3 separate regions of the Homo sapiens genome follow, and regions 2 and 3 are each linked to region 1. The links come from fine-mapping of genetic effects on gene expression. A gene starts in region 1. Each other region holds a variant in brackets. All regions are shown on one strand. Distances are from middle to middle.

The links. PIP is the estimated chance that this variant, and not a neighbour inherited with it, causes the effect.
Region 2: its variant is the best candidate, but not a certain one, in a credible set for the expression of ERN1 in whole blood (TOPMed, PIP 0.83).
Region 3: its variant is the best candidate, but not a certain one, in a credible set for the expression of ERN1 in blood mononuclear cells (TOPMed, PIP 0.53).

The regions. Positions count from the first base shown.
Region 1 is chr17:64,126,096-64,134,259 of GRCh38, reverse strand. It overlaps ERN1 (endoplasmic reticulum to nucleus signaling 1), which reads left to right and starts at 4,116. Exons shown (of 22, transcript NM_001433.5): 1 at 4,116-4,284. The coding sequence starts at 4,231. RefSeq lists enhancers at 607-656, 2,252-2,311, 3,216-3,265, 3,316-3,515 and silencers at 3,936-4,065, 4,156-4,605.
Region 2 is chr17:64,068,240-64,076,422 of GRCh38, reverse strand. ERN1 (endoplasmic reticulum to nucleus signaling 1) reads left to right here. Exons shown (of 22, transcript NM_001433.5): 5 at 1,176-1,248; 6 at 4,320-4,442; 7 at 8,132-8,183. Among named protein-coding and RNA genes, the nearest start is that of ICAM2, 52 kb to the right of the region's middle. RefSeq lists silencers at 1,180-1,474, 1,958-2,017 and an enhancer at 1,658-1,737. The variant A/G (reference allele first, on the strand shown) is at 4,807.
Region 3 is chr17:64,048,218-64,056,366 of GRCh38, reverse strand. ERN1 (endoplasmic reticulum to nucleus signaling 1) reads left to right here. Exons shown (of 22, transcript NM_001433.5): 13 at 419-692; 14 at 1,539-1,629; 15 at 1,928-2,117; 16 at 2,996-3,095; 17 at 3,388-3,587; 18 at 7,165-7,312. Among named protein-coding and RNA genes, the nearest start is that of ICAM2, 32 kb to the right of the region's middle. RefSeq lists enhancers at 1-366, 367-1,110. The variant T/C (reference allele first, on the strand shown) is at 4,928.

The DNA of each region.
Region 1 (8,164 bases):
TTGCCCAGACTGGTTTCAAACTCTTAGGCTGAAGATACCCGCCACCTCAGCCTCCCAAAGTGCGGGATTACAGGTGTAAGTCACAGCGCCTTGCCCCTTTATGGTTGTATTAATATTTATCCCATAACTACTTCCACACACTCTGTAGGTTCAGTTCAAGAAGCAGCAGCAGCGATATCACTAAAAACAACAACAACAAAAAAACTGACTTGATTTATTCTGATAAAGATACTATTCCTTTGAAATGTTACTGGAGTTTTCAACCATGACCTTTCTTTCTGGTTTTACTAGATTTTTCTTTCAAGTCTCCGCCTTCAAAGGTATCTATCCTGTCACTAGCTATCTGCAAATCAACCTCACAAGCATTTTTAAATGAGATTTTGAAGGGTTTTAAACACAAATGAGACAGGCACAAGCTCCTTTTTTGGGTCATAATTTATTACACTAGAGGGCGATATTTGCTAAACTAAAAGGGATTCATGGTTGCAGGGATGAAGGCTGGACATCATGATTGAGCTGGAGCCCTGGATCTTGACTGCCTTCAGTGTACGGTGGAAACTGCAAAACGCACAGGTCTCTGGGCTCTGCCCCTGGACATTGTGAATCAGTCAGGGAAAGGGGTACAAGAAGTTATTGGAAATATGTTTTTAATTTCTTTTTTTTTGTTTGTTTTTTGAGATGGAGTCTCACTCTGTCGCCCAGACTGGAGTGCAGTGGCGCAGTCTTGGCTCACTGCAACCTCTGCCTCCCGGGTTCAAGAGATTTTTCTCCCTCAGCCTCCCAAGTAGCTGGGACTACAGGCGCACACCACCACGCCCGGCTAATTTTTGTTTTTTTAGTAGAGACAGGGTTTCACCATGTTGCTCAGGCTGGTTGGTCTTGAACTCCTGACCTCGTGATCCACCTGCCTCGTCCTCCCAAAGTGCTGGGATTACAGGTGTGAGCCACCATGCCCAGCTTTTTATTTCTATTTTTTTGAGACAGGGTCTTGCTCTGTCGTCCAGGCTGGAGTGCCATGGCACGATCAAAGCTCACTGCAGCCTTGACCTCCTGGGCTCAAGCCATCCTCCCACCTCAGCTTCCCAAGTCACTGGAACTACAGGTGTGAACCACTATGCCTGACTAATTTTTTGGTTTTTTGTTTTTTTTTTTTTACAGAAACAGGGTCTCACCATGTTCCCTAGGCTGGTCTTGATCTCAAGCAATCCTCCTGCTTCGGCCTCCCAAAGTGCTGGGATTACAGGCGTGAGCCACCATGCCTGGCCTGGAAATCTGTTTTTTGTTGTTGTTGTTTTGTTTTGTTTTTTTAGCTCTCCAAGTTTGGGAACCAGTGGTTTAAAGGGAAGTGAAAATAAGATTTTCTCCCACCTCCCCATAGTCAGATCCTGCTGTACTTCTTTGTTGAATCTGATGTATATATGTTTCTTACACTGGTGGAAAAGAGGCCTTATCTTTACACTAAGACCATGACCTTTGCTTTATTCAGTGGATGTTATTTAATGTGACTTGCAGAAAGGTCATTTACTGCCCATTTGCAGGTCTTTTATATGGTCAGGTCCACTTCAAAGGCACCCTACAAAATATTCCATTTCTGTTTGTGTTTATCAGTGCTATCAGCTTTTACTTTATCATAAGCAAAAAGCTGCCTAAAGAAGTACTTGACTGTAGAGCAAGATTATGGGCAATGCCACCATAAATAAAACCAGTGCTTATCTGTCTGGATTGCCAATCAAGTGAAGAAGTGCATGAAGCATGTGGACGATGCATAAGAAATTCAGAGAATGGGGCCGGGCACAGTGGCTCACGCCTGTAATCCCAGCACTTTAGGAGGCGGAGGTGGGCAGATCACGAGGTCAGGAGTTCGAGACCAGCCTGGCCAACATGGTGAAACCCCGTCTCTATAAAAATACAAAAATTAGCCAGGCGTGGTGGCAGGCACCTGTAATCCCAGCTACTCGGGAGTCTCAGGCAGGAGAATCGCTTGAAACCGAAAAGGCAGAGGTTGCAGTGAGCCACGATCGTGCCACTGCACTCTAGCCTGGGCAAAAGAGTGAAACTCTGTCTCAAAAAAAAAAAAAAAAGAAAGAAATTCAGAGAACATGTAACAGTGCAATTAAGCCCTGGGGATTTGGTCCAACTGAGTGTAAGATAAATAATACCTAACTGTCCAGGCTTCTTGGAACAGATTTTTTTTCTTTCTACGATCTTTAAAACTGATTTATGAGTGAAATTGAGGTCAGCATTCCCCTTTGTGTTTCATCTGCTGATGTTACAGGGTCACAGTGACATTTTGAATTGTAAAAGGGCTGCCAGAGTTCCAGTACAGCAAATTTTCCCCTCCTAGACTTACTCTGTTTGAGAAAAAGCACCAGAGGGGGGGATGTGAAAGTGACATTTTTCAGTCAAGCTTCTCTTTTAAGTCAAGTATACAGGGTCTAACAGATGCTGTTGTCAGCTGGCAAACTGGACAGGTAATCACTAAAGAGGTCCTCCCAAGCCAGGTGTCGTGGGGCACACCTGAAGTCCCAGCTACTGGGGAGGATCTCTTGAGCCCAGGAGTTTGAGAGCAGCCTGGGCAACACCGTGAGACCTCATCTCTAAAAAGAAAAGATAAAAGGTCAAGAAATAAAGAGCTCCTCCCAGTTTCAGGGCTGTAGGCCTCCCTGGAAGCCCGGCTATACTGCTCAGGAGTGCTGGGCCTCTCAGTACATCTCTCTGCCAATCCCAAACCTCTGTTTGCATTTAGACATTCAGGTAACACTTTTCAAAATGTCTCTACTGTTTTCACAGTTGCCAAGATTCTTCCCACTCTTACAGAGATGTGTTGGAGTCTCCAGCATGCGGTAGGACTTAGTCCCTTCACTGTAATCCAGGCCTAGGGGGTTAGGAATGGGGAGCTCTATTTGCAGGATTTGGGCTTACTGTCATTTTGGTCTGTTTTAGTTGGATAAGATTGACCACAATGCACACAGACTGGACATTTGGCCAGTCCCCCACTACTACTTTGTTGTTTTGTCTAGGAGTGCTTATTCTTTTCCTTCAAACCTGAAAAATCTTAGGCTCTCATATAAGCAAGTCAGGAAAAATTAGAGAATTTCATAGCCGTTTTCTTTTTCTCCTAGGATAAGTTAGATACCTTTCCCTGGGCTCCAAATCTCAGTTTACTGTCTTTCCTTGCAAAAGACGTGTCCTCCCTACCCATGTCCCTCTCAGTGGAGGCCAGTGCCAGTGACCAAACAGCTGCCGAGCTCTTTAACTCTAATTAGTACTCCACACCCTCACATAGACCTTGCAGGAGGCCTCAACCCACCCACTCCCTCCAACGAGTTGTGACGCAGACCATCTCAAACTTCACATCCACACGTGTCACATCAACGCACGTGACACAAGTGGCCGAAATGGTTTCCTCCTTATAATTTTTGGTGAGTGACTTGGCCGTGGTTCATTCCAAGCGGAAGTGATGGCTGGTGGATATGACTTGAGGGGAATTCCTGAGGGCAAGGAAAAGGAAGAAAGGGGCCCCAGAGAAGACGAGGCACAGCTGGAGAACCCTAGGGCTGTGAACACTGCGACTGCCGCGCGGGGCAGCTGCGCCGTGTTTGCTGGAAGCCTCCGGTAGCTGCTGAAACCTTCGCTCCGGAGGTCGCCTCGGTAAACCTTGCGGATGATTCCACCACGGCGGAAAGACGAAAAGGAGGCTTCTAGGCACCCGGGACCGCCCGTGTCCCGCCCTTTTCCCCGATGAAGTCTGACGCGGCAGGTCCCTCGGCAGGGTTAATGGGACGGCCTGGTGGGGCATTGCCGGTCTTTCCCAGCCACAGACAAGCTTCGCGCCTCGATCCCCCAGCGCCCCCAGACGCTGGATGCCGAGGCCTGGTCCTTTACAGCCGCCGACGCCTCATGAGCGAAGCCAGCCAGATGCCAGCACCGCCTTCGGCCCCGCCCCGAGCCAGCCCCTCCCACATCCCCGCCCGGGGCACGCCCTCGGCCCGCCCCCATCTCCGCCCCGAACACGCCCCTAGATTGGCCCCGCCCCGTCCCCGCCCGCAACTCCGCCCCGACCGGAAGAAGCCGCGGCACCCAGCGCTTATAGGGCCGGGAATGGGGGTGCCGCCGCTGCCTAGTCAGTTCTGCGTCCGCTGAGGCTCGGTCACCGCCTCGCTGTCGTCGCGGCGCCCCCGCCCCGTCCTCTGTCCGTACCGCCCCCGGAGCCAGGGCCGAGTCCTCGCCATGCCGGCCCGGCGGCTGCTGCTGCTGCTGACGCTGCTGCTGCCCGGCCTCGGGGTGAGTGACCGGGGAGCGTGGGGTGGAGGACAGCTCGCGACGGCCGGGTCGGGGCCGGGGCAGCGTCGCGGCGCCGGGGCTGGAGTCCGAGCTGGGAGCGCGACGGCGGCGGCCAGATGCCCCGTGAGCCCAGCCGTGGGAGGCTCGGGCCGGGCGTAGGAGGCGGCACCGGGCCGGGAGAGCTTCCCTGACGGGAGTCGCGGCCCCACCGAGGCGTCGGCCGCCCGAAGAGCCTCCCAAGCCAGCGCGGCTGTCACGGGCAGCGGCTCCCCGGACCCCGCGGGCTCGGGCGCAACTTCGTGGCGTCCTGCACGGCACTTGGGGGTCCCAGAAGGCCCCGGCCTGAGGAGGCCGCCCACCTGCGGGACCCTCCTCCTCGCGGGCGGGCGCCGGCGCTGCCTGGCGGGGGCCGCGGAGGAGCCGAAAGGGCGTTGGGATCCAGGGGAAGGGTCTGTCCTGCGCTTCGAATCCTTGTTTGAACTTTTTAAAAATTCGAAAACTTTGGGGAACGAATGCAACAGGGAGTAAGGACTCTCACCCGAGAGCTGGCTTCTGCCACTTGCCCTGCCGGTTTCTTGGTACTGGGAGGCTGCAGGCTTCCTTCTGTGCACCGAGACTTCCTTGAGCAAGTGGAGCTGTGGGAATTGCACTCTTGGAAGATCCCGCATGGGTTCGAGGTGAGGCCGCTTCAGAACCTCAAATGAAAGACTGTCTCCTCGTGGGAGAGCACCTGGGGCCATCAGAAATGTCTTTTCATCTTTTTCTGGAGGAGACGAATGATAGGGCCTGGTTTACATTCATTTAACTCTTTATGACCTTCACTCAGCTGTGGATTTGGGGGCACTTTGTGGGAGACTTGGCTTTTTTTTTTCTTCTGGTTGGAAGAACCTAAATTAGCGAATGTTTTTCACAAAATGTATTGTTCAGGATGTGAGCGTGGCAAATTTGTCCGTGTTCTGTTTAATGACCTCTTTAAAGGTACTGTGTACTCTTTAATAGGGATATCATGTACCAGGTGTCCCAGTAGAGCACTGACATGTGTGTGCCTGAGTGCCAGCCACCGTGTGAACTCTTTGGAGGTTTTGCATTTTAGGTAAATAACTGTCTGTACTCTTGGAGTAACAAGAATTTGGAAACAGGAGAAGTAAATAAATAAGGTTGCCTTTTTCAAATTCAGGGTTTTTTTTTTTAAATAAAGGAAAATTTGTAGACTCTTTATAATAGAACTTGTGGAAGTTAAGTTTTTCTTTCAAATAAAAACCCCACTTTTACAACTAAGGTCAGGTTTTGAACTTGAGCACCTCACCTTGGATTGGTAACTACTGCCTGGCATCTGTTCACAAACGAAGGTATAAGCAGAATGACCAAATGTTTGACATGAATTCGATCATTTCATAACGTCAAGGGATAGGTGTATAATGGTTTCCTTTGCCACATCTTTCCTTTTGCTACTTTGTCACTGGATTCTAGTGTTTGGTTATTGAATAACTTAGGCTAAAGAGCCAAAAATAACGATTTAGCTGTAGTTGGAACTATAGTTTCAGTTCGTGTAAATATTTCCAATTTGTATTTAGAAATCCAAACTTCTCAGAGTTCATGATAAAATATTCCAGACCCTTATCAAAAGGTTATAGTTTAGCGTAACTATATTTAGGTGAAAGGTCAGGCCGGGCCCGGTGGCTCATGCCTGTAATCCCAGCACTTTGGGAGGCTGAGGTGGGTGGATCACTTGAGGTCAGGAGTTTGAGACCAGCCTGGCCAACATGGTGAAACCTTGTCTCTACTAAACATACAAAAAAAAAAAAAAAAAAAAATTAGCCGGGCGTGGTAGCGCAGGCCTGTAATCCCAGCTACTGGGGAGGCTGAGGCAGGAGAATCACCCGAACCTGGGAGGCAGAGGTTGCAGAGATGGAGTCACTGTGCTCCAGCCTGGGTGACAGAGCAAGACTCTGTCTCAAAAAAAAAAAAGAAAGGTCAGAATTTCACTCCTAGAATTTTCTCCCAAGGGTTTTTACCCCCAAACATAGTAAGAATTATTATTTTAAAATTGTAAATGAAACTCATAGCAAAGTTTGCAGTTAAACCAGGCAACAGTGATGTGCAGAACGCAGTGGGTATAAAATCAGACAAACCTGAGTTCTAACTGGTCACTTGCTAGCTGTGCCCTAGGCATATTCTTTTACTACTACTACTACTACTTCTTTTTTTTTTTTTTTTTGATATGGAGTTTCTTCGCTCTTGTTGCCCAGGCTGGAGTGCAATGGTGTGGTCTCAGCTCACTGCAACCTCCGCCTCCCGGGTTCAAGCGATTCTCCTGCCTCAGCCTCCCGAGTAGCTGGGATTACAGGAGCCCACCACTACACCCGGCTAATTTTTGTATTTTTAGTAGAGACGTGGTTTCACCATGTTGGCCAGGTTGGTCTCGAACTCCTGACCTCAAGTGATCCACCCACCTTGGCCTTCCAAAATGCTGGGATTACAGGCATGAGCCACCGCACCCGGCCATGATTTTACTTCTTAGAGACTCCTTCCTGATAGGTGAAATGGGGACAGCTAACATGTGAAAGAAGGCACCACCTTCACACGTGCTTAATAGATAATAAATGTAAATTCTCTTTATGCTCCAAAGATGCTTTTTACTCTAAGCCATCATTTTTTGAATGTTATACTATGCCTCTGCAAGAAATAGTTTTTGATATTTCTTTTTGATTGATGTAGTAACTATTGCATTGGAGGCAATACTGTGATTTTCTTTCAGTGTGTGTCTTATTGAGCCAGACATTGACTCATTATGAGTTGAGACTTTAGGCTACCAGATCCAAAACGCAATAACATTGGTATTATTAAGCACTTGAGGCTGTCTTTTGTTAATCCAGAATGTGCTTATTTAGTCAGTGAGTTTTTCCTTTCTTCCTAGACCTATATCTTGCTCCTAGAGTTGGTTAGGGTTACATCATCACTGTCAGCAGTCCTCATTTTATGGTTATTTAGGTGCCACATCTCTCAATTACCAAAGAGATCAGTACAATGTGAGGCAAAGTACCTTTTTTTTTAAAAGCTATAAGATATCAGATTTCTTTCATTTAGCCAATATTTTGGTTTTAGAGGGAGGTTTTTAAAAAGTCACCGAGAACTGAGGATCATGTGTGTATAGAAACACTGTAATCTGATAGATGAGTCTTAACTAGCAATGTCTTTGCTTATCATTTATTCTGACAGTGATCACCTGCATTAATTATCCTAATAGGCGATATCAAGTGTTTATACTGAGGCCATAAGTAGAATGTTCATTGAGTTTGTTATCAGGGCTGCTGATCATGAAATTAAACTGTAGTTGTGCACATGTGTATTGTTTCATTAACTTGCCTGCCTATTCAGCCTTCTGCAGTAATGTAGCTTCTCAGAGCACAGGAGAAAAATGTATCTGAGAGTTATTCGAGAGAGAGTTCAACAATAGCCCATATTTCCGAACATAAATCTAGTGAGCCGCATTAAAGTTTCTTCATGTCTGGATGGAATAGTGTCACTTGCATAGGTCTGAGGGTTTCATTATTTGCCTGCCCCAGATTTGGACTCCGTTTTTCAGGTGAAAGAATCCTTGGATAACTGTTTCATTTTCATAGGAAACCTCTTTGGTTTCGGGATCCAAAGTAATATGTAGGTTCAATATTTTGTAGGTTTTATAATCAAATGTCTCCCTAAAGAGATGACATAGGGAAGAAAAGCCTAATGTATCATCTTAATGGATTCAGTTTTTATTATGCACAAATAACTGGGCTTGTAACCTAGGAATATGATTAGAGCGTGATGCTGGCTTAAAAAATAGGACTGGTGAATCACAGTTTGTGAATAATAAACTACTGGTTGGAAATATTTCCCA
Region 2 (8,183 bases), 58 kb after region 1:
AAAACCCAGTCATTGCAGCCTCTCTGAAGCATTTTTCCTCCTCTGAGGCTTGGTTTGAATGTTGGGATGATGGGAAAATCCAAGTTATTTAGTATGCAAAGCTCTGCTTATTAAAGCTAGAGAGAAATCTTTTCTTTCTTGGAGAAAAAGGTGACCATGCAGTAGAGGCATTTCTATAAAAGCAGGTATCTATAGAACAATTTCAAAAACACAGAATGTTCTAAAAATAAAGTATACTGAAACAAGCATTAACCAAAAGAGCTCGTCAGATGTCAGCTGTAGACTCAGAAGAATCAGTTTTATGATGAAATGCAGTTGAAACATTTGGATTCCTTTGAGTTTCTTTTCCTGGCACCTATCTTAACTTCCTCTTTAAAACCAAAAGTCTCAATTTTTCTTGTTTTTCAATAGTGAATTATTTACTGAAGAAAACATCAAAACTCTTTTCCACCTCAAACTCTTGTGTTGCCCCTGTAATGGCGACTTCTCCTTTCCCTCGAAGCTTGAGCTTGGCACCAAGGTTGCATCCCTTCAGCATCAATGTCCTGGCTCCCTCCCATGGGGCTCTACAAAGCACTGTCATTTTACTCAGTCTAGCCAGCTCTGGCTCTGTATTCCAAGCCAGGACAATTCTTTCTTAGCATTTCAAAGAATATATAACTCTCCATATTTGTGTAAATCTTTTCAGAAAAGGTTTGTGTCACCCCTGGGAAGCACCCTGGACAGGAGACCTTGAGGGGCCTCTGCACATGGTGTCAAGTAAAGGAGTGGATGTTTACAGAGCTCAGGGACCTGGGAGCTTGTCAAAATAGATGTGGAAAATTAGCTGGGTGTAGTGGCAACATGCCTGTAATCCCAGCTACTTGGGAGGCTGAGGTGAGAGAATCACTTGAACCCAGGAGGCAGAGGTTGCAGTGAGCCAAGATGGTGCCACTGCACTCCAGCCTGGGCGACAGAATGAGACCCTGTCTCAAAAAAATGAAAATAAAAACACAGTAGATGTGGAAGCATAGGGTGCCCCCTTCTCCTTTGTATTCAGTTAGGAAAACTCTCATCTGCAAAGTGCTTCTCTCTTTTTAGCAGAATTAGGTAATAGAAACAAACTGCCTGGTAAAATTGTAATAATTGCACAAGACTTGGTTAACTTTTTTTTTTCTTTTTTTTTTTTTTTAAAGAAACTTCCTTTTACCATCCCAGAATTGGTGCAGGCATCCCCATGCCGAAGTTCAGATGGAATCCTCTACATGGGTAAGAGTTCCTGTCTCCAGAAACTTGTGTCTCTTTGATGTAAGTCCCGGAATCTGGGAAAGTGGCATGCGGAGAGAGAGGGCGCAGTCACCGCCTTGCCAACCCTTTCTTTCCTGGGTTGTGCTTCAGGTGCTGTTCTCCCCAGGATCAGCTGACCAATTAAGAAAGGGCTCCCCCAACTTGGGAGAAGAATTGACATCATTAATATGGTTACTCATTTAACAAGCTTTTAGTTGCTGTGTTGACTTAGTCCTGAGATTCCAAGATTGCAACATACCCAGTGGCAAATGGATGAAATTTAAAGTGAGTACAATCATCTAAGCCAAGGAAGGAAAGCCAGGCTCTGCCTGTTAATTATAGCGCTTTCTTAGTATTTCCTGCTATCAGAATGTTTGATAGAACAGCACTTAATAGCTTGCCTAGATAAACTGCCTTCATACCTATGGGGTCACAGCTTTCAAAGCATCAGATCACCTGCTTTTCTTTTACTATGTTGCTGCCAAAATGTCAATAAAAAAGCATTTGCAACACAAAGGAGAGCTGTATTTATCTTGAAATCATAGTAGCAATAATAGCCCGTATTTATACAGCAGCTTTCTTTTTGAGGAACTGAAAGTGCTTATTGCCTATTCATGCCTCGAGGAGCTTTATGTGTATTTCTGGGTCTCAAGTGCAGGCCAGACTTTTAAGGTTTTGCTCAGGACACTGAGACTCTTGCTTCCTTCCACACCTTCAGAATGAGGAACTCCCAGCCTAGGAATTTGGAGGAAACGATCGGCACAGATTTTTCTCTCTGTGGGCCGTGACCTGGGAACATCTGATAATCTTCTGACCATCCATGTCACTGTGTCCTATCTGGTCTTCCAGCTTTTGCCAGCAATTCATCACTTATAGTCTGCTTAGGATATTGTCTTCTTATCATCTTTGTGCTGTGGCCTCTTAGGCGAGTTCATTAAACATATTTAAGAGCATGGTAGTTGCCCAATCTACCCATTAAAGTAATAACTGAGTTATGTAAACTCTAGTGGTTCTTGAAGTAACCAGCTATGTCATGCTAGATGGAAAAGGTTCGTGGTCCTAGCTCTGTTCTCCTCTACCTTCAGATCATATTCATATTATGATTTTGTCAGTGAGAACAGAGTTGCGATCCATGGGTAAGTTGCACACATGTGGAGCAGGCATGTATGCAACATCTGTTAGAACTTTAGAGGTATAGCATTAGCAAATTACAGGCCAGGTGCAGTGGCTCACAACTGTAATCCCAGTACCTTGGGAGGGTGAGGCAGGAGGTTTGCTTGAGGCCAGGAGTTTGAAACTAGCCTGGTCAACATAGTGAGACCCCGTCTCTACAGAAGAAACATTTTTAAAAAATCAGCCAGGTGTAGGCCAGGTGCAGTGGCTCACGCCTGTAATCCCAACACTTTGGGAGGCTGAGGCGGGCAGATCACGAGGTCAGGAGATCGAGACCATCCTGGCTAACACAGTGAAACCCCATCTCTACTAAAAATACGAAAAATAAGCCAAGCGTGGTAGCACATGCTTGTAGTCCCAGCTACTCAGGAGGCTGAGGCAGCAGTATCGCTTGAACCCTGGAGGCGGAGGTTGCAGTGAGCTGAGATTGCACCACTGCACTCCAGCCTGGGCGACAGAGCGAGACTCCGTCTCAAAAAAAATAAAAAATAAATAAAAATTAGCCAGGTGGCCGGGCATGGTGGCTCACACCTGTAATCCCAGCACTTTGGGAGGCCGAGTTGGGTGGATCACGAAGTCAGGAGATGGAGACCATCCTGACTAACACGGTGAAACCCTGTCTCTACTAAAAAAAAAAAAAAAAAAAAATTTGCTGGGTGTGGTGGCACGCACCTGTAGTCCCAGCTACTCAGGAGGCTGAGGCAGGAGAATCGCTTGAACCTGGGAGGTGGAGGTTGCAGTGAGCCGAGATCACTCCACTGCACTCCAGCCTGGGCGGCAGAGCGAGACTCCATCCCAAAAAAAATAAAAAAAGAGCCAGGCATAGTGGCACATGCCTGTAGTCTCAACTATGGGGAGGCTGAGGCAAAAGGATGACTTGAGTCCAGGAGTTTGAGGCTGCAGTGAGCCGTGACCACACCTCTGTACTCCTCCTTGGGCGACAGAGCAAGACTCTGTCTCAAAAAAAAAAAAAAAAAAATTTCAAAGGCTCTGTGACCTTCTCCAGCATCTCAATATTCTTCTTCTAAGAGTCTCCAAAACAGGAGACTTTTCCAATAAGTTAGGAAGATAAAAATGACCACCAGAGATCATGCTTTACAAAATGGAAATACACGCATCACAGTGACTGTGTTGACCTTCACATTGGAGGCCCTTGCTACAGACTCTCCATTCCTAGGATGCTGTTGGGTATATACCATTGATACATATGCTTTGGGTTTTCTTAATATATAGTGTTATTTACTGTGCTGTCTGCCTGTCATAATCAGCTGACCAAGATTAGGGGGTATGGCCCGAGGCCAGGGAATTACTTACTGGCTGGGAACAGAGGCCGAGACAACTTTGACATCCTTAGCATCAGGTTGCAACCAACTCCACTGACCAGTCCCAGGTACTAGTTAATTATAGTCATAAACAGTAACTGTGGATCCTTCTCACATGGTGGCTGGTTATTAGGGAGGTTGAGAAATGTGAATGATGGTTATTAGGGAGATGAACCCCTGGGCACATTTCTGTATTTCTATAGATCCCAGTCCACGGGAAAAGGATTGCCCTTCACAGGCAAGACTTTTCATATTTAAAGCCACTCATCAAAGCAATAAAATCTAACTTGAAAGTTTGGGGAACTTTTTGAAACTATAATTATGTTATTGGGTTTGGAGGAATTTGTATACCATGTTTAGGTTATTAAATTATTATAAGACCTATGGACCTAAGAAGTTTTATTATCTCTGCATTACCATTTATATCATCACCTTAGAAATGACATCCTAAGAAATTCAGGTCTATCTCTCTCAATACAGAGCATCTTGGCTGCTAGTTTGGCAGCGATACTTTTTTCCATATGGTGTAAACGACGATGTGTTTTTGTGTCCTTTCAGGTAAAAAGCAGGACATCTGGTATGTTATTGACCTCCTGACCGGAGAGAAGCAGCAGACTTTGTCATCGGCCTTTGCAGATAGTCTCTGCCCATCAACCTCTCTTCTGTATCTTGGGCGAACAGGTAAGAAATGAACCTTTGTCTTCTACAACCTGCCTGTTTCCAGAAGATCGGAAGAAGCTCCCCAGCCTCCTTCCCTAGAAGGTGGCCAGAGCTGCTTTTTTCCAAACACAGGTCCCATCATGTCATTTTCCTTTATAAGACCCTTCAGTGTCCCCCCAGTGTGCAAGGGATACAGTCCAAACTGCACCACGGCCCAGAAAAACCCCTGTGACGCCGCTGCCACCTTTCTCGCCTCATTTCTCTCATTTCAAAGTTGCCTGGCCGGGCGTGGTGGCTCACGCCTGTAATTCCAGTACTTTGGGAGGCCGAGGCAGGTGGATCACCTGAGGTCAGGAGTTCGAGACCAGCCTGACCAACATGGCGA[A/G]ACCCCATCTGTACTAAAAAAATACAAAATTAGTCAGGTGTGGTGGCATGTGCCTGTAATCCCAGCTACTCAGGAGGCTGAGGCAGGAGAATTGCCTGAACTGGGGAGGTGGAGGTTGCAGTGAGCCAAGATCAAGCCACTGCACTCCAGCCTGGGCAACAAGAGTAAAACTCCATCCCCCCTGCCCAAAAAAAAAAAAGTTTCCCAATTAGGATGAACTACCTGCAGCTCCCAGAATAGCAGTGTTGTTTTTAAAGACTTGTAGTGGTGTGGTCCTCTCCACCAGGTATGCCTGTTTTTGCCTATCTGGCAAATATCCTCTCTCACAACTGTACTCAAAAGTCACCTTCTCTGTGAAGCCTCTTCTGCAGCCTCACAGCCTGCACCCTGCTCAGGAACACCCGGCTCTCCCATTCTAGGGGCACACGTAGCAGTTAACAGGCCTGTAGTGGCAGCCATCTCACCCCTCGTCATTGTCCCTTGACAGGCATGGCTTGCACCCTCTTCACCGCACCATTTTGTGTTTCCTCCCTTTTCAGCCTCTTTCTTCTTAACACTTGGCACTGCATATTTATAAATTCAATGTGCCTACTTCCTGCCTCCCTCACTAGAATATCAGTTCCCTGAGGGTACGACTTTGTTTTGCTCAGCTGCTGTCTCTCTACATCAGGCATATTGCCTGATGTGTAGCAGGGGCTCAATGTTTGAATGTATGAATGGGTGGGTCCCATTATTGCAGAGACCTGCCTTACTTATTACCATATGTGCAGCACCTCACACATGTCGGGGATGCCATGAAAATTGTTGAACGATACTTAAAGCTAAAAGGAGAAACAAAAAACATTTAGAAGGAAGAAATTATACCAAAAACCTAGGATGAATTCATTACAATTGAGCACTACATTTAGGTCTAAACTTTCAGGCAGCCAAGGATTTGAAAAAAGAGAACCGTCCTGAAAGTGTTGGGGAAAGCACTGCATTTCTAAAACTCAGTGAGACTAATCTTGGGCCCTGCAGAAGCTGGCCGGGCTCTCCTGGAAATGGGTGGAAGGTCTTAGACTGTAGAAATCATGTATTCCAGCTTCTGACTGTAGTGACTGCTTAGGATTTATGTGTTTACCTTTTCCATTAAGTAAATTCTTACAGTGGCCCCAGCTTCATCCAGATATAAAAATTGCGTCATTCTCAGGTGAAATTGTGGTGTTCGAAGGAGCTGGGATATGCATGAGGTGGAATGTGTGTGCATAGGTGTGTAAATCCATTGCCTCCATTATCTATTGCTGCATGACAAACCACCCCAACTTAGCATTTTATTGTTAATGATTCTGTAGGGAATTCAGGAAGGACTCAACAAGAACCCATCATCTTTATTCCACATGCTTGGTTGGCCTCACTCATGTATCTGAGACTTCAGTTCAGTTCCGTGTGACCTTTCTCCATACAGATAGCCTGGACTCTTGATATGGCAGCGGGCTCCCTCTTGAGTAAAAATGGGTGTTACAGTGCCTCCTAAGGTCTGGGCTCAAAAGTTCCAGAACCTTCCTTCCACTGCAGTCTGTTGGTCAAAGCAAGTCTCAAGGCCAGCTGAGAATCAAGGGTAGAGATATAGACTCGGCTTCTTGATGGGAAGAGTAACATGCATTACAGGAATGGGAAGAATTGGTGGTAGTGACCTTTAGAGATGTTCTACTGCAGTCCTCCCTCAGGCTGCAGTAGTTTACAACCCTCCCACTCCCTCCAAAGACCCCCAAAGTCCAATCCCAGCATCAGTCCCAAAATCTCACCTCTCATTATCTGCATGAGGTCTGGAGGTAGATGATGCTCCTCAAGTGTGGCACCTCTTGATCGGAGACCTGTGAATTAAAGAGACAGGGTCTTTCTCCCCTTCCCATCCCCCACCCAACATGCAGTGGTGAGACAGAGACAGGATAGCTGCAGTAAACATGTTCACTCAAAAAAGGGCAGGAAAGAGAGACACATATCACACATTGGGCCTTAGTAATTCTGAAATCCAGCCAGGCACATGTTTTCAGGTTCCCCTCCTCCAGGGGTAGGGAATATTCCTTCATTAGGGCCCAGTTTTGCCCTCTGGGATTGGTTCCCTAATATAGTGCTCTCAGTGGCTCTTGGTTCTGCCCTCTGAGAAGTCCTTTCTTTTCCATAACAAATGGCCAGTTTTGTATCTTTCTCAGTCCGTTCCTTGTCCATTGAAATTTGGGGATCTAGAAGCCCTTTTTTTTCAATTTGACTGTCTCTGTTCCTTTTAGTCTATGCTGATACCACTCCTTTAAAAACTATGTGGGCTTCCCATGTGTCAAATTATAATTTATTCCATTAGATAAAAGCCATACCCACAAGTTTCTAGACTTTGGAATGTGAGTGCAATGGGACAACACATGGTTTTTAGAACTCCCTTGATGGGGGCAGAGGGTCTATGAGGGACCACCTTAAAATCTTTCAGAGGTCTCAAAGAAGGATCTTACAGCTTCAACTTTGATTTGGTTGATCTTTACCCTGAGCCCATTTTTTGTTGCTGGCAGTACCCTGGATTTGATCTTTTCCCTAAAGTTATTTTTTATATTGAGAATCTTTTCCAGCGATATTCAGTCCTGGACCCTTTATAGTTCCTCTGTATTCTGCTGAATGATTTCTTCCTCAGCTCATTTGTCTCACAATATATCATAGACAGCTAAGAGAAACCATTCAACATTTTCTGCCTTCTGTCTGGAAATCTCCTTAGTTGGATCCCTGAGTTGATTAGGTACTTTTTCTGTCTTCCAAGTTACTGCAAGCAATAGTCATGCTCATCATGGCACCCTCCACAAGCTGGGTCACCCCTTTTCCATTTTCAATAGCAGTGCCCCCTCTGCACTAGCAAGTCTCCACCAACCTTTTTATCAGCCTCCCAGCCTCCACCTGCCAGCTGGTCCTAAAGTCAATGCCACATGTTTTAGGTGTTTGTTATGGCGCCATCCTGCTTCAAGGTGCCAATTTTTAATTGTCAGCAATCCATTGCTATGTAATAAGGCACCCCGAAGCTTAATGGCTAACAACAACATTCTATTGCTTACACTTCTGTGAGCCATGAGTCCAAGGGCATAGCGAGGGTGGGTCGTCTCTGCTTCCACATGCTGTCAGCCAGTTTCACTCATGTGTCTGGGCCTTCAGTTCTCCTCACATTGCCTTTCTCTATCGACATGGATAGTCTGGACTTTTTGGCCTACAGTTTAGGGAGGATTTGTTTGTTATAATTAGATAAGGACCACACCTCAGTAGGTACTATGGCCCCTCCGTGGTAATGGGCTGGCTGGTCTGTGTTCTTTAGAATACACCATCACCATGTACGACACCAAAACCCGAGAGCTCCGGTGGAATGC
Region 3 (8,149 bases), 78 kb after region 1:
GGGTGGCGAACCTGGGGCTTGCTCTCACCCACCACTGGCTCAGCCATGCTACCTGTGCTTCCTGTTTGGTTTCACCTTTGCAACAACTCTCAGACTTTCATGAAAATCACAGAATTTTAGAACTGAATGAAACTGGCACAGCCCTCAACCTAGGGCACAGTCCCTCCCCTGGTGGCCATCCAGCCCCTCCTAGGGTTGGGGAGTGGGCTGTATGAGCAAGGATCTAACTAGTCGGTGGAAAGACGTCCAGTCATCGAAGCAATTCTGCTTCCAGGTGCCTTCTCACTGGTCTCTTTGTGCCCTGTTGGGTCACATAAAGTACACATGCTCCCTCCGCCACTGGGACCTGTCCCTTCCCAGCTGCTTGTTTCCCTGTGGGAACAGCTGCCCTTGTCTGGATGTGGGTTTCTCTTCCCAGAGCATGCATCAGCAGCAGCAGCTCCAGCACCAGCAGTTCCAGAAGGAACTGGAGAAGATCCAGCTCCTGCAGCAGCAGCAGCAGCAGCTGCCCTTCCACCCACCTGGAGACACGGCTCAGGACGGCGAGCTCCTGGACACGTCTGGCCCGTACTCAGAGAGCTCGGGCACCAGCAGCCCCAGCACGTCCCCCAGGGCCTCCAACCACTCGCTCTGCTCCGGCAGCTCTGCCTCCAAGGCTGGCAGCAGCCCCTCCCTGGAACAAGACGATGGAGGTAAAGCCAGTTGCCATCTTGGTGCTATTTTATGTTTTATTCGAGCACCTCCTGAGAAGTCCAAGGAGTCTCCATAAGATTGTAAACTACCATTCTCAGGGGTTCACTGTGTTCTCCTCTAACTTCCACTCTGGGGGTCTCTGTGGGAAGGCTTCTGCCCCATCCCTTGGCATCTCCCCTTCAGAGGGCCTTCTGGGAACCACCCTGGCCATCCTCCTGTCTTTCTCCACAAGGGCTGGGCGTCGCGGCTGACCAGAGGTGAGCTGCCCATTGGGCTGAAGAGAGTTCCCAGGGCCAGCCGGTGGCCAAGTGTGGAAGTGTCACAGTTGGTCTGCTTTCCTCTGTGGAAGTTGGCTCAAGCCAGTTGTCAGAGCCCCAATTCTGAGGGAACTGGCACAGAGCTGGTGCAGGGAACTCAGAGCCCTCTGTCCCAAGGAGTCTCCTCGTTTTACATGTCCATTGCCGCCACCTGAATGCTTCAGTGCGGATCTTTACAGTGGACTTTGTGGTGGTTGTTAACTATTAAACCATTCTAACTATATCACAATGAATATGTATAAGTGTGTGAAACGCTATGGAGAATCCCTGCCTTCCAGAAGGTTTTAAGATATGCAATCGCACAATAAGGTAAAGGCGGAGACAGAATGCAGGGGCAGGGGGAAGAGGCAGTCCTGGGTGTACATGGGGAGTGGGCCTGGCAGGCTCTTGCTGAGCAGCAGTCTGGGGTGCAGTGCCTCTTAAATCCCATCTTTTAATCTGAGGTCAGGAAGCTTGTCACTATGTTAACCTCAAGGTTCTTTAGGTGATATCTGTTTGAAACAATCTCTTTTTCCTATTTTGTCCCAGATGAGGAAACCAGCGTGGTGATAGTTGGGAAAATTTCCTTCTGTCCCAAGGATGTCCTGGGCCATGGAGCTGAGGGCACAATTGTGTACCGGTGAGTGGATTAGCCAGCCCCCTGCCCTCACCGCCTGGTGTCTAAGTGCCTGTCAGGTTGCGAGCCTGGTGCCAGGCTCAGAGCACAGCAGGGTCAAAGCAGTGACCTAGACGCATGGAGTCCGGCCTCCAGGGAGCTTGCACACTGAGACAAGCGATGATTCCGGGGCCACCAGGCAGTCAGGCGGGGCTCTCTAGGCTGGGAGGCAGTAGGTGAATGCTGTGGACCCAGGTTCTCACCTCATTTACACAGCCTGACTCGTGCTTCCCAGACACAACTCCCACTCCTCATCCCGCAGGGGCATGTTTGACAACCGCGACGTGGCCGTGAAGAGGATCCTCCCCGAGTGTTTTAGCTTCGCAGACCGTGAGGTCCAGCTGTTGCGAGAATCGGATGAGCACCCGAACGTGATCCGCTACTTCTGCACGGAGAAGGACCGGCAATTCCAGTACATTGCCATCGAGCTGTGTGCAGCCACCCTGCAAGAGGTGGATTTATTTTTTTTATTTTGTTAACTTTATTAAAGTCATAGCACTTTGGGAGGCCAAAGTGAGCAGATCACGTGAGCTCAGGAGTTTGAGACCAGCCTGGACAACATGGTGAAACCCCATCTCTACAAAGAAACCAAAAATTAGCCAGGCCTAGCGATGTGTTCCTGTAGCCCCAGCTACTTGGGAGGCTGAGGTGGGAAGATTGCTTGAGCCTGGGAGATCAAGGCTGCAGTAAGCAGTGATTGTGCCACTGCACTCCAGCCTGGACAACAGAGTGAGACCCCGTCAAATTAAAAAAAAGTTACAGTGAATTGTACTAATTTTAAATGTAATAGCTTGATGAATTTTGACAAATGTCTATACCCATTTAACCACATACACAGTCAAAATGTGGAGCATTTTTATCCCTCTGGTTGTAACAGGGTGGTCCCCCCAGCATGCCTGGGCAGTCTGCTTGCAGTTGGCATGTCTCTCCCTCTTTGCCTCCAGGAAACCTGGACAGTTGTTCTTTCCCTCTTCAGTCATGGCTGGTGTGGGCTTGGAGGATGCCAGTTGGTAACTCCAGGCTTTAAGATCATCCAGCAAGCTCCTTTTGCTCATTTTCCAGGCTCACTTTGAAACCATATCAGTATCATTTGGATTCCTTTGTAGGTTTACTTATATGAGGCAATGAACTTGAGTTTCTTGCCTTCTTATCTTTCTCATTGTAAATTAGTAGATTTGGAGGTTTGCTCCTTGCTGGAAAACATGGATTTAGACAGAATGTTGTCAGTAAAACTTGCCATTTCTTTCTTAAAATGGTATCAAAGAAAGTGAGCCGAGGGGCCAAGTCCTGAGGACTGTGTGCCGTGACCTTGCTGTCATGTCTTTTGCAGTATGTGGAGCAGAAGGACTTTGCGCATCTCGGCCTGGAGCCCATCACCTTGCTGCAGCAGACCACCTCGGGCCTGGCCCACCTCCACTCCCTCAACATCGGTGAGAGGCTGCACTTTACCAGGCCAGCGGCCCGGGTGGGGAGAATCAGTGGCCCAGGTGGGGCTAACCAGTAGCTCGGGTGGGCCTTGCTTCTGTTCAAGCTCTTGGCTATATCACCAGTAGCAAAGATGAGTGGTGTAAGAATTTGAGGAGGAATCCGACATAGTTGAAAATCAGAACATTTGGAGGTGGCGGCAGGCATATTGGGAGTCTGACGAGGACACATTCCCCATTGGAGGAGGCCTGGGGTTGCTCCTGGTAAGCATTGGACTAATCTGGAGTTCTCTGTTAGTTCACAGAGACCTAAAGCCACACAACATCCTCATATCCATGCCCAATGCACACGGCAAGATCAAGGCCATGATCTCCGACTTTGGCCTCTGCAAGAAGCTGGCAGTGGGCAGACACAGTTTCAGCCGCCGATCTGGGGTGCCTGGCACAGAAGGCTGGATCGCTCCAGAGATGCTGAGCGAAGACTGTAAGGAGAACCCTGTGAGTAATAGGCTATGGCCCTTTGAAAACTACAGAACCAGCCCATTGTATCTTCAGGAGTAGAACCTTTAAATTCCAGGTTTGGGGGCTGGTGCCCGTGTAGCTGGAGAATGGCATTCCTTTCACCAAGAGCTTCTGTGTGAACATTCTGTGTCATCTCATGTTCAGCTGATTAAAGGGGCAAATGTGGGCAATTATCTATTTTTTTTCCCTATTCTTCCAATCACTTGTTTTTTTTTTTTGTTTGGTTGGTTGGCTGTTTTTTTGTTTTTTTTGTGTGACAGAGTCTTACTGTCACCCAGGCTGGAGTGTAGTGGCATGATCTCAGCTCACTGCAATCTCCACCTCCCAGGTTCAAGCGATTCTCCTGCTTCAGCCTCCTGAGTAGCTAGGATTACAGGTACCTGCCACCACACCCAGCTAAATCAATCACTTTTTAACCCCTTTTTAATTTTGGTAAACTGGGAAGTCAGGGCTTGCTTAGCGTGAGCAAACTTCAAGTTTTCATTATTTTTAAAATTTTGTTTTTGTTTTCTCAACTTATTTTGATAATTTTTAGACATAGAGAAAATTAAAAGAAAAAAATTTTTTAGAAGTGCGATCTCGCTATTTTGCCCAGGCTGGTCTTGAACTCCTGGGCTCAGGCTTAGCCTCCCAAAGTGCTGGGATTGCAGACATGAGCCACAGCATCTGGCTGAAAGAATGTTAACATGAATACCTGTGTATCTCCACCTAGATTCAACATTTGTTAATACTTTTGCCACATTTGCTTTATCTTTACCTATTACTGAACCATTTGAATATAAGTAGCAGGCATCCTGGCCCTTCATCCCTGAAGACCTCAGCACGTGTCTCCTAAGGAATACATTGTGTTTCCAACCACAATACCATTATCCCACCTCAACAGTTAATACTGTTTCTATCCATCATCTCATATTCAATCCATATTCAAATTTCCCCAATTAGTCCCCAAATGTCTTTTATAGAGTTGGTATTTTGCTACCTACTGGGTTTTGATACCTACTGGGTTTTATATACCAGGATGGAATCAGGTGTCTTGCGTTACATTTGATTCTGTCTCTTGGAATTTACAAATCTTTCCACCTATATTTTGTTCCATGTTGAAGTTCCATTTTGAAGAGTCCAGGCAGTGGGTTATAGGATGCCCCATTCTGGTTTGTTTGCTTTTTTCCTCATGACAGCGTTGAACATTTCTCTGTATTCCTTGTATTTCCTGGAAACCAGAAGTTAGGTGGAGAGGCTTGATTAGGTTCAAGTTAAATGTTTTTGGCACGAATGTTTTTGGCAGGTCTCTACATCAGAAAGCATGTGATGGCAGA[T/C]TGTATCTGTAAGATTATTATCACCTCCTCTTAGTGATGCTACAGCTGATCTCTCTACCATAAGGGTTCATTTCCTCCTCTCTTGTTAGTATTTGGGGTGATACTTCAGCACAATGTGAATATCCTGTTTACTGACAGTCACTCACCCAGTGGTTTAGCATGTGTTGATCACCCTTGCCTGAAGTACTCAGTTGAGTAGAAATTCTTCTACATTGTTAGCTGACATTTTTCTGTAAAGCAGAGCTTTCTTTTCACTTTCTTCTCTCTCTCTTTTTTTTTTTTCTTAATCGCTATGGGCTCAAGGATTTTGAAACTAATGTTATAATCCATTTTAGTCCTTTTTTTGTTATTTACTTCTTTTGATACACAAATTGTTCCAAATTTGGCCAACCTGGAAACCCCTTCAAGCTGGCTTCTGCATCCATTTGCTGGGAGCGCACTCACACTTGAGCACCTTATTCTAGCACAAGTCGCCGAGGCTCACCTTGGACACTCCCCGATGGAGACCTGGGTGGGTCAGTCATCTTGAGTGGATTAGATATGGCTGCCTCTTATCCAGCTCACTGGGGACCAGCAGCTGGTCAGATCATCAAAGAAGTCAGTTACAGCGAAGAATCATAAAAACACGCACGCACGCCGTAACACTTAATTTTAACTTAAAGCAAGTAATATTAGCCCTTAAGTCATAGAAATCTTGTGCTGTAGGCTAAGGTCTTTTCAGATTTGGGTCTGACTGACTGGAGTCCTCATTTTCCCCCTTGCATTAAGCACACTTCTGTACCACTTCTGTGACTTCTGCATGGAGGCTTGGACACTTCAAACACTTCCTAAGCGATTTGAGAGCAGAAGCCTGGTTTTTAACGCTTCATGACCCAGTCCCTTACGGTTGAATCCACCACACCAAATGCCGCAGCAGCTCTTGTAACCATTCCCTTTCCTTTATCGAGTCTTTCTAAAGATTCAGCTTACCTCAGACTTCGTGGCACTCATGTTTAACAGCTTATGGAATATCCAAATTACAAGGACAAGTGGCAATAATAAGTTTGGGAAAGAACATAATTGGGGCCAGGCAGGTAGGAAAGATGCCTCTTCACCTTAGTGTTGTCTGTGCTGGGGACAGCAGGCTGCAGAGAGTGTGGGGGGCGTGAAAGACCCAGAGAGCTCTGGGAGTCAGGGGCGAGCTCCAGCTGTGGTGGCCATGTTCCTCCTGTCCCGAATCCAGCACCTTCCTAAGGGAAAATCCAGTGAGGTAGAATAAAGCATGGTAGGTTTGGAGATTGGAAGACCTGAGTCCCATCCTGGTTTATCACATCCAGCAGTGACCCTGAGCTTGTCATGCAACCTTTCTGTCCACGTTCTCATCTGGGGATGAAAGCATTTGCTCTGCTCGCCTCACAAGGTTGTTGTGAGGCTGAATGAGAGTGCTGTGTTGTTCAAGGTGTGTCTCCTCCAGCATGGGAGGTGATGAGCCCCTGCTTCCTCACACTAGACCCTCACTTCACCTGGTGGAGAATCTCAGAGGCAGGGCCTACTAACAGGGACCCAAGCTGTGCTCAGGAACCACCTTGGTATTACACCCCAGGTAGCATGAGCTAAAAAACACAAACGTACATTTCCCTCGAAGGAAGCTATTCTGTAGACACAGAATGGTTTCATGGGATAAGTGAGAGGCTTTCTCGGATTAACATCAAACATGACCTCCTTGGTAACTTGTCAGATAGTTTCTTTCTAGGGCTGTTTTTGAATCATAAGCTGTTTTATTCACTTATTAGCAATTTTGATACCTACTGTGTGCAGGCACCATTCTGGGCCCTGGGGGTACAGCAGGGAAGCAACGACACAGAGACCCTGTCTGTGAGCACTTTCGTGTTGGGGGTAAGGAATATATAACAGCCAGGAGGGCTTTTGATGGGCCAAGCACTGTCGTAAGCAACCATTTTTGCATATTAATGCATCTCTTTTGACAACAGCCCCATGCTGTCAGTGTCCTCATCTCACATGAGAGGGAACCAGGGGCTTCCAGGTGGCTCCAAGCCCAGGTTCTCCACTGGGACCTCTGACACCCATGCAGTGCTGCAGGTTAGCCCTCGCTGCTCTGTGCAGCTCACATATGTCAGCTGATTCTCCCAGGACACCTTCTAGGTGGCAGAAGCAGCAGCAATGCTCCTCCCTCCCTGACTGTGAGTGAGGATGAAAACTCTGCTCCCAGACCTCTCACGCCTCATGTCTCTTTTCAGACCTACACGGTGGACATCTTTTCTGCAGGCTGCGTCTTTTACTACGTAATCTCTGAGGGCAGCCACCCTTTTGGCAAGTCCCTGCAGCGGCAGGCCAACATCCTCCTGGGTGCCTGCAGCCTTGACTGCTTGCACCCAGAGAAGCACGGTGAGCGGTCCAGGGGTTGGGGTTGGGAGCAGCTCCTCAGCTGCCTCAGGTGGCCCTGCAGAGCTGGGCTGGTGCCACCTTTGCACTCACAGAGGCCGTGGTGCCCCAGCTGCTCACCCCGCAGGCCTCAGGACCTCCAGACTTGTGCCAAATCTGGTAGAGGGTTGGTAGGGTTATCTCTGGGGCGCCACCTTCTAAAGCTGAGATGCTCCAAGGTTCCTCCAGGTCACCAACTACTTGTGTGACCTAGGCAAAGCCCCCTTTGGAGACCTTCTTTTTCTACCTGGTGACATGAGGGTTGAATAATCAGAGGTCCCTTCCTGCACTGGCATTTGGGAAGACAAATTGTCTTCTCTCTTGGGATGGCGAGTGGTCAGTAGGTGCAGTCTGTGCTGGGCTGGGGACAGACAAGCTTTATCCTCACCCTCCTGGTCTCCTGGTATGGGTGCAACAAGTCTTTCTTCCAGACTTCAGGTTTTCCTGGGTGGTAATTGGCCCATGACACTCCAGTGCTGCCTTTTGAAAAAATTACAACTAAATTATTGTTTTGTTTATGCTTAATTTTTCTTATTATAGAAAACACAGATTAGCATAAAGGCCCATATATTCCCATTATACAGGGATGAATGATGGCTATTGATACCTTTGCATATACGTTATTCCAGTCATTTATCTAGACGTGATTGCATATTTTATAAAAATACAGTTAAATCCTGCATACTGTTTTGCAGCATGCACGTTTTTCAGCGTCACCTTGAATCTCTCTCCACGTCAATCCATATTTAGTCACAGCCGCACTTTAACAGCTCATGGCCCAGCGTAGGGAGGCACCGTAGT